Linked DNA regions of Homo sapiens: region 1 is linked to region 2. The links come from fine-mapping of genetic effects on gene expression. A gene starts in region 2. The other region holds a variant in brackets. All regions are shown on one strand. Distances are between the middles of the regions.

What was found. PIP is the estimated chance that this variant, and not a neighbour inherited with it, causes the effect.
Region 1: its variant is fine-mapped to the expression of GPATCH2L in thyroid (GTEx, PIP 0.96).

Annotation. Positions count from the first base shown.
Region 1 is chr14:76,196,900-76,202,145 of GRCh38, reverse strand. It overlaps GPATCH2L (G-patch domain containing 2 like), which reads right to left. Exons shown (of 10, transcript NM_017926.4): 10 at 1-455. The coding sequence ends at 295. Among named protein-coding and RNA genes, the nearest start is that of GPATCH2L, 48 kb to the right of the region's middle. The variant A/T (reference allele first, on the strand shown) is at 2,660.
Region 2 is chr14:76,148,813-76,154,058 of GRCh38, reverse strand. GPATCH2L (G-patch domain containing 2 like) reads right to left here and starts at 2,137. Exons shown (of 10, transcript NM_017926.4): 1 at 2,068-2,137.

The sequences.
Region 1 (5,246 bases), 48 kb before region 2:
TTCTGTAAATGGAGCTGTAGTAAATGTTGAGACAGCAATAACAAGGTAACAAATAGAGCAGAGGATGACCTTTTTGTAAAAAATTGCTGCCTCAATATTTCACTATTTAAAAAAAAGATTCCCACAACATGATCTTCTGAGAGAAAGAATCCACTGCTGTGTTTGAAAGAGGAGTTGGTTCTGGTGGTGAAAGGACTGGGAATGTCGATTAAGATATGCAAGACTATCTAACACAAAGTCCAACATTTGCTTCAGCAACACCCAGTCAGCTCCTGGAGGGTGAAGTCCTGCTCTCTAGCTGTATCCAGGGCTCTTTTCTTGTGGCATTTTAAAAAATGTAGCAGTAGTTGCGTCTGTGGCTTTCTCTGCTGCAGAGGTCCTCACCAACCACTCAGAGCTGGGTGATTTGGGGGCTTGTGATGCTGGTGTGGTTGGCTCCACTGCATCCATGTGAACTAGTAAGGTTACAACAGAGAGGAGCAAAACATCAAGGGGAGATAAATTAGAATAAGACAAATTAGAATGAGAGATACTTAGAAAAAAAATTTTCTTAATCCTTATACTTCATGTCCTAGTAACCCAAGTGGCCACGTAAGGTATCTCTTTCTTCTCTACAAAAAAGTAAAGACAAGATTTAAATAAGATAGTATTTCCTAATCTGAGAAAATGGGTTCAACTGAACAAATAAATTCAGTAGCACGCATTCATAATGTAGTAAAAATCACTTATTACGTACTTATGTGTGTATTGCTTAAACAATGAATACTCATGATCTTGTTAATGCAAACCCTTACTCATAGATGCTCATAGAGATGACTCATAGTGATCTCCACTTTCTAGATCAGGGAGCTAAGGTATACAGAGATCAGATAAATTGTTCAGGGATAAAACAGAGCTGGTTAAATATCAAGATTCAAGCACACATACTGGACTCTAAACCCCACGCTCTTCCTGCCACAACCCATGCCTCCGATAGGGCAGTGTTACCAATAAATATATACCATACAACAAGGAAAATGGTAGAAAAAGAGCACAATCAGGCCCAATATTTTTCAATAAGATCACTAAAGACATTCTGGACAGGAGACATGGCTTGTGCAGGGCTGTCTTGTATACTTCAGAACACTTACCGATCTGGATCCTATCTGCTGAATGCCAGGAACACTCCCCAGTCATTGTGACAAACAAACATTTACTTCACATTTCCAAATGCCCCTGAGTGGAGTGGCACAAACCACCATCATCTCTACCCACTCTGCTGAGAACAAATATATACTAAAATATGGCAAAATCTAGGGAAGTTTGGATTTTACCGTCACCCAATAATTCCAGTCCCAGAAACGTAACCTAAAACAGTAATTTTCAAATTGTGGATCACAAAATCAATTTAGTGGGTCATGGCCATTACTTTTTTTACTCAATGAAAAAAATAGAAAGTATCGGCATGTACCCAAGATTTATTTCAGATTTACATGTACAACCAACGCACATATTCAAACATGAATTTCTTATTGTGGGCTAATGTAAAAATATCTTGAAAGCTGTTACTCTATATACAAGAGTTTCTTGAGGGCAACAGCTTTCAAACATTTTGGAACGTCACCACAGCAGCAGGAAATACATTTGACAACTCAAATCTCTCTCTTTTTCTCTCTCATACACACACACTCACAACAAACTCAGGCACATATACTCACTCATATTTAACTGGTAATAAATTTCAAAAAACTGTACCTACATGGTCACCAAACTGCAGTGAAAAAAGCACTACCCTAGAAAAACTTTTTTGCTATTTTTTATTATAGTAAAATATACATAAAATTTGCTATCTTATCCATTTTTAACTGTACAGTTCAGTCGCATTAAGTACATTCACACTGTTGTATAACTGTCACCACTATTTATCACCAGGACTTTTTCATCATCTCAAATGGAAACTCTGTACCCATTAAACAATAACTCCCCCCATTTCCCTCTTCCCCTAGCCCCTGGCAACCACTATGTTCCTTTCTGTTTGTATGAAGTTGACTATTCTAGTAGCTTATAAAAGTGGAATCACACAATATTTCTCCTTTTGTGTCTAACTTATTTGACTTAGCAAATGTCTTCATCCAATTTGTAGCACATGGCAGAGTTTCATTCTGAATAAGAAAGGCTTTCAAGCTACATAATATTCCATTGTATATATACGGCAAATTGTGTTCATCCATTCATCCAGCAATGGACATGTGATTTGTTTCCACCTTGACGACTGTGAATAATGCTGCTGTAAACAAAGGTATGCAAAAATCTATTTTGAGTCTCTGCTTTTCATTCTTTTGGGTATATGCACAGAAACAGAACTGCTGGATCATATGGTAGTTTTGTGTTTAACTTTTTGAGGAACTGTTTTTTTACATGCTGTTTTCCACAGCAATGCATGATTTTACCTTCCCACAAGCACTACACAAGGGTTCCAATTTCTCCACATCTGCACCAACACCTGATGTTCTCTGTTTTTTGATATAGCCATCCTAATGAGCAGGAAGTGGCCTAAAAGAATGTTTGCACTTGTTCTCTCAGAGAACAGTGCAGTATTTTCCATAATAGCATAAAACAGGAATACAATCCAAATGTTCATCAAGAACATTTAATTATAACATATTAATCATATTCATAC[A/T]ATAGAATACCACATACATGGCAGTTGAAACATAGATTTTGGCAGGACAAAGCATAATTGAATCTCAAAAACAGAACCCGGTGAAAGCTGCAACATAAAATATGACATACTTTGATTTCATATACACAAGGTTCAAAAACACAAAACTGGACAATGTATTGCTTGAAGATACATATGTCTGCTAAAACTACTTGAAAAAAACAAAAGAATGACAAACGATAAAAAACAATCAGAATAACTTTTACCTCTGAGGAGAGCAGGGAGAAGATTTTTAAAGATTTTAACTTTTTAAAACTTTTAAACCTTTTATAAAAGAAAATTTTAACTTTTTCTTAAAGTGAATGGTAGGTACGTGGATATTTGCTGTATTTTATTTACTCCTTACATATCTGCTATAAATGTTCTTTTATACCCCTTCAATATTTACTAAGAAACATGTTTAATTTTAAAAAACATTTAAACTTTAAAAAGACACAGTGGGCAATAAGAATTTGCCCTATGACTCCTGAGAAAAGGGACATCCTAAAATGGAACTACTGAATCCAACCATGTGGTTACAATATATTAGGAATCACTCTGTTTCAACTTTAAGATTCTATTAATTTATTCTTACAACAAATAACCAGTGGGTTTATTCTATGGGCTAGGTATTCATTTAGATGCTAGGGGTACAGTAGTGAACAAAACAGATAAGCAGTCCTGCTCTTGTGAATGCATCTGACAATACATTTGACAATTCAAATCTCTCTCTCTCGCTCTCATATCACTGACCTAGTATTTGAAACCTGATGTAACTAATTAACAGATTAACTATTAGGTACCCTTCTGAATGATACTCTAAGCACACATATCCTATCCCAGAAAGAGAAAGGTCAGAAAAAGTTTTTGGGATAGCTAAAATATACTCACACAAATAGCTGGGTTCTCAACAGAATTTCTGATCACCTCAATTCCGCTTTATCAAAAGGCATGTGTTTACTTTTTAAAGGATTGGAATCTGCACACCAATGGCTCTGATCTACCATTCTGATGAAGAAAATCATTTCAAGAAAACGAAGCCTGGTTTTCATCTGGGTTTATTATGTTTTTTACAGCTACTTGGTCTCAAATTTTGGAGAAGATAATCTTTTTTTTCTTTTCTGACTACTTTCTTTAAGAGCATATTCAGCTAGTTCACTTCAGCATGAGGGAGACACTTGCAGGGAAATCCCTGTTCTGGTGTATCAAGTCTGAGAAGCAGGTTAGCATGCTTGCTCACTAAGATCCAGGGTGTGGTTCTGTGCACTAGACACCTGCATGCTAGAAAGCCGTAAAGGAGGGAGAATGAAGATACAAAGAAAATAAAGGTGCTACACTTTCAAGATGGGTCTATTTAACAACCTATGGTCATTTACAGTCTTTTTCCTTGGCCTTTTGTTACTATTAGTACAAAAAGGCAAGGAAGACATGCTGTTTCTTCCTGCTCTTCACCTCTCTAGCCTTATTAATATCTTTAAATTCAGTCAATTGCAACTCAAAACTTTCTACCACTGGGGGAGGGGAAAAAGGGAAAAGATTTGTGGCTGCATGTTTAAGAAAGAAGCTGAATTCATCACAGTGACAGGGGAGAGTGTTGGCAGAGATCTGAGCTATTTATTCTTTTAGGAAAATCCTATAAAGAATGACACAAGGAAGCCTCTATCTGCAGTCTTGTTCATCACACTGGTGAAGAGTCCGATAACAGATGTATGCCGTAGCGTGATTTAGTGCTAGGAGCTGGCCCCTGATGTGTATTAATACAGCGGCAAAGCGGAACCCACCTCTCTTCATCACTCATTCCTATAAAAGAGGTGGAATCCGAGATGGCCCGATGTTAGGCAGAGCAAGCCCATTTGTTCTACTGACTGATGGCTCAGACTCAGGCTATGTCCTTCACCTCCATGGGGCACTCAGGTTGTGGGCAGAAAAAAAGAAAATGCTCAGTGAAGCAGGGCTTAGTCAACAAGTGAGGAAAGGAGCTGGGCTCAGGAGGGGAAATGCTTAATGCTCAAGTCTTGTTTAATACCCACCCCCACACACGTACACTTCCCAACCTGAAAATGGAACAAGGATTTTAAACTCTTTCCAGTGGTTCCTCTCTTATAAACAATTAAAAGCTAAAAATAAAAGCTAGATATTAAGGAGAAAAAAAGAACAAAAAGATGAAAGAGGGGTGGTTTTCTTTTAATGCTTCCAATACCATAGACTGAATGAGGATCTGAGTTTTGATGCACAGTCATAGTCTAGACTTGATCTTGTTTTATATAAAAAGAAGAACATCTGCAGGACAGCTCTAGAGTCACAAGGAAACCGGTCTGATCTTGGCTCTGCAATTTATCAACCATGTGGCCTCAGGGAAGTGATTTAAGCCTTGGTTTTCTCATGTGTAAATTGGGAATAAAAACAGCATCTACCTTATAAGGCTGTTGCAAAGATTAGGTGAAATAATGTTTACAAAGTGTTCAGCTCAGGGCCTGGCCATGTGGAAAGCACTGAAAAAAAAGTACTATAATCATCAGACCTGTAATGAAGATTGTCCAGTATGAACCACCATAAAGCAGACTTTCCA
Region 2 (5,246 bases):
AAATTCGGGGGACTAGATCCTTCTCTCTTTTCCCCAATTAAACTTGTCATTGAATTACCTAATGATGAGATCCAGAAAGATTAGAGACTGTCTCACTAGACAGGAACAGAAAAACATACAACTTCAAAATCACACTAGAGTTGTGGAAACACAGAGTAGCACATGGTCTCATCGAGGTATTGAGAATGAATGAAAAACTGTTCTTTGGCCTGGGGTCACTGCTGACAATGACCATGGCAGAAAGAAACAGAAAGACAACTTAGTGACACCATTTAAGGAAGAATGCAGTTTTCGTGATCCAAGAAATTGTAGTGACCCAGGTTTGAAGTCAGAATGGAGAAGAGACTAAGTTTGCGCCCATTCTGGTACCAACTACCACCTGGAAGCTACCAGGTATAGAACCTTATACAGTATGTCATATATTTTTGAATAATTAACAATTTTTAAGCCCCTCTCCTACCCTCCAGAAAATAAATGTTGGTCCTAGTTATGTGCTTCAGTGCCACACAATCACAGAAAACTAGGATACAATAGCAGCTGAAATGACAGGGATAGGGTGAAGTTTCTAAGATTTCTGGCCAAACTGCTTTCCAAAATTTCTTATTTTTCTGTTCATCCTCAAACCAAACATCACACTTCAGGGGTCACTTCAGAGACAAACATTTCAAGAAATGACAGTAGTAGGAGCAATCTTCAAAATTCCCCCTTAAGGGGAAATATTTAATTTGTACAGCATCTAATTAAATACATATTAAATTTTTAGCACTTTTCTCTTGCCTCTATGCCCAAAGTATTTCAAGATCAGCTTAAAATTCTAAGTGGTGCCACTCTCTGACCATATTCCCATTCATTCAGTTTTCACTTTGCAAAGGGCTTTCTAAAACCTATTTTCATGCTGTGCCTATGCCAATGAACTTAAAGACAGGAAAACAGTCCTCTGGCTTATCTGCCACACCTGTAGGAGCAATAGTGACACCTACTTCCAAAACTACCATACAAACGAAGCTTCTCAAAGTGTCCAAAAGCACATACATTTAAACAAGACCAAGTTCTTTTAAGCATTAAGAAGTGGTTTATCAACACCTGTGAAAAGAAGGGGAAAAAATGGGAAAAAAAAAAGTGGATTAAAATGCCATGATTGAGGTTTGGGAGACAACTGTCCCTAAGACCAAAATAAAGAAACAAGTGGGAACAGCATGTCAAAATCTACTTCCCTAATAAAGAATTACTGCTTTAAAAACTCAGGCAACAAAAATACAAAAAACAAAAACAAAAGAACAAATAAAAACCTCAGGCAGAACAGCACAAACTTGAACATGGAACGAAGTCATCAAACAACTTGCAGTCGAATGCCTGTGCAGAATCCTTTCCTGCCTCAAAGCCTGTAATTCCAACAGTAGTGACAAAAGAACCCTAGAACTCCCCATCTCCAGTCGCGGATGCACACTCTCGAGAGGACCCGGCGGCCAGGCACGCACCCGGGCAGAGATGAGGCTGAGTCACGCACAGGAAGGAACGGGTAGCTGGTGGACAGCAAGTAAGAAGAGAGACAGGAGCAGGGTGGAAGTGAGGGGCGGAGTAGGAGGTGGGAGAGGCAGGAGGCAACTGCTCATTTGGGCTCACGAGGGGCGGGGATCGGCTCTTCTAGGGCAGAAACTGCCAAAATGCAAGTCTTGGCGACTGAGCTCCCTCCGGGATCGGGGGTCGCAACATGGCCACATATATGACAAAAACTGTGTTTCGAAGGACTCTCCACCACGCCCCGGCCCGTCCCTGAGGGCTGGGGCGACCATGGCTCGGGACACCAAGCCCTCAGGCTGCAGCCCGCCCCAGAGAGGCAGAAAGAAGAAAGGGGAAGAGGGGGCTGTGGCCCCGGAGACGGCCCGACCCACATCCCCAGGGATGGGGACAAGGGCCCTGAAAAGCAAGGCCCCACCACCCTCACCCTCCGGCCGTCTGCCGCAGCCCCAAGACGCCCTTAGCCGCTCAGCCGCGGCTTGGCGCTCCGATCCCCTCTGGTACTAGCCCCCAGGACCCCAACACTCTCAACCCATTCCTCCCCCTCACCAGCTGCCGCAGCCACCTCCAACGGCCGCCGCTTTTTGGGCCGACTCTCACCGCCGGGGCTTCCCTCTCTGACCTCATTTCCGGTCTGGGCCGGAGGGGTGGGGCGGTGGCGAGTGGGAGGGGCTGGCTGCACGATTGGGCCCCTGACCCAGTGCTTCCGCCCGTGGCCACACCCACTTCCGCCCCGCGGTGGGCGGAGCCACAGGAAGCCAGGAGATGGGGCAGGGGACAAGGAGGGGTGTTGAATAGGGTCTGGCCGGGAAAGGGCGTCTCAGGGGTTGAGGTGCCCCACGTGGGGAAAGACCCCTGCATGCTGGCCTCATCTTCCTTAGGGGCTTCCAGAAATTGGGCGCTAGGCAGGGATGTCAGCTTATCTCTTGCTTTCTGACCTTTTTAATGGGTCTGTGAAGTTGAGGGGAAATGGATCTTAATGACGTCTACCCTGTGAGCTGGTACAACCTTTGGAAGAGGTTGTTTTGCACTGAGTTACTCAGAACATTTCAAATTGCCTTGAGCAATAAAACAAGTGATATTGGATTATAACTCAAAGTACAAAAGAAATATTCATGAGCCCATGCCGATATAAGTGATTGAATAAATTAACGAATGAGGAAGAAGAGATAAATCCCCCACAGAAGAATCTCAAATAACTTATGTAGACAGCCATCCTGCAGCATAACTTCTGCCTCCTTAAATGTGGGCTGTGCATAGTGACTTCCTTCCCAAAAGTACAACATCTGTAAAGGGGAAAATGAGTGATTTTACAGGGGAGAAACCTGGCAAACAGTAATTCAGCCAGGTGATCAAGACTATGTGCTAAATCATGTTGATAGTATGTGGAATGATATATGATGAGAATGGCACTTTATGGTACTTTCCTTCCAAATCTCATAACCCAGTCTAATTATAAGAAAAAAAAATCAGACAAACCCGAATTGAGGGACATTCTGCAGAGTGCATGACCAGTATTCTTCAAAATTGTTAAGATCAGCAAAGGCAAGGGAAGTCTAAGAAACTCAGAGCCAAGAGGAGCCTAAGGAGGCATGACAATGTAATATGGTGTCCTGGGTGTGACGCTGCAATTGAAAAAAGAACATTAGGTAAAAACTAAGGAAATCTGGATAAAGTATCAACTTTAGTTAATCATAATGTATCGGGCCGGGTGAGGTGGCTCACGCCTGTAATCCCAGCACTTTGGGAGGCCGAGGCAGGCGGATCACCTGAGGTTGGGGGATTGAGACCATCCTGGCTAACAGGGTGAAAACCTGTCTCTGCTAAAAATACAAAAATTACATGGGCATGGTGGCACGTGCCTGTAATCCCAGCTACTCGGGAGGCTGAGGCAGGAGAATCACTTGCACCTGGGAGGCGGAGGTTGCAGTGAGCCAAGATCGCACCATTGCACTCCAGCCTGGTCTACAAGAGTGAAACTCCGTCTCAAAATAATAATAATAATAATAACGTATCAATATTGGTTGCAATTGTGAGATGTGTTATACTTCTGTAAGAGTGAATAGCCTGGTGTGGTGGCTCACACCTGTAATTCCAGCACTTTGGGAGGTTGAGGTGGGCGGATCACCTGAGGTCAGGATTTCGAGATCAGCCTGGCCAACATGGTGAAACCCCGTCTCTACTAAAAATACAAAAAATTAGCCAGGTGTGGTGGCACATGCCTGTAGTCCCAGTCCCTACTCAGGAGGCTAAGGCAAGAGCATCGCCTGAGCCCAGGAGGCGGAGGTTGCAGTGAGCAGAGATCGAGCCACTGCACTCCAGCCTGGGCGACAGAGTGAGACTCAGCCGTCACAAAAAAAAAAAAAAAAAGTGAATAATAGGAGAAAGTGTGAATTACACAGAAACTGTAACAATCTTCATAATTTTTATCTAAACCCAAAATTATCCTAAAATAAAAAAGTTTATTTAAAAATATGCACATACCTTGGACCCTGAAATTTTGCCCCAAAGAATTGTATTCTAAGGAAAAATTGGAAATGGGCGCAAAAATGTTAAATATAGGTAAATCATCTCTGCAGCATTTCTGAGGGAGAGATGAGGAAACTAGAAAAAGCCAGAAGTTCTACAACAGGGGTTAGTTAACTAAATTATGGTACATCTATGGGTGGAATATCTTGCAACTTTTAAAAATTAATGTTGCAAAAGAATATTTAATGACATGAAAAGCCATCGACTTATGATTGTGTACATTTCTGCATGACTGTTATACTTCAATAAAAAGATTACTCTAAAAATGTAGAGTATGATTCCCATACAAAGGAAATTAAATCTATACTCGCAAAGGAATATGACCAGAAGAAGCCACCATACAATATCCGAAATGGTTTCATTATCAATGATTATATCTCCTATCTATTGTTTTTTGTGGATTTTCAGAATGTTCTATAGGTGAAAAAAAGTCAAGGTAGGAGACAAAGATAGCTGAGGTTTTGAGCTAGGGCAACTAAGACAATGGTCAGTGCCATCTGCACAGCTAGAGAAGTCAAGAAGATAAACGGGTTTAGTGGAAAGATGATTAATTCCATTTTGGACATGCTGAATCTGTGACTCCCACAGGACAGAAATATGGAAATGTTCAACAGGTGTCCACAGCCTTAGGCCTCTTTTCTGCATAAGTGAAAATTCTCTCCCACAAATCACATCTGTTCCCACGGTGTTGATTGCCTGCATCAGCACTGAAAGCTCCCAAATTTCTTGAAATCCAACTTATATTTTCATTTTTCTACTAGATAGCTCCACTTGTTCACCTCACCAGCATTTCCAATTTAAAATGTCAAAAATAGGCCAGGCGTAGTGGCTCACGCCTGTAATCCCAGCACTTTGGGAGGCTGAGGCGGGTGGATCACTTCAGGTCAGGAGTTTGAGACTAGCCTGGCCAACATGGTGAAACCCCGTCCCTACTAAAAATACAAAAAATTAGGCAAGTGTGGTGGTGGGCGCCTGTAATCCTAGCTACTGGAAAGGCTGAGGCAAGAGGATCACTTCATTCCAGGAGGCAGAGGTTGTAGTGAGCTGAGAGCACACTGCTGCACTCCAGCCTGGTGACAGGAGTGAAACCGTGTCTCAAAAATAAATAAGTAAATATAATAAAATGTCAAAAATAAAGCTTAGTTTCTTCCACAGTTTCTTTCTTCCTTCCTTCCTTTCTTCCCTCTCTCCTTTCCTTT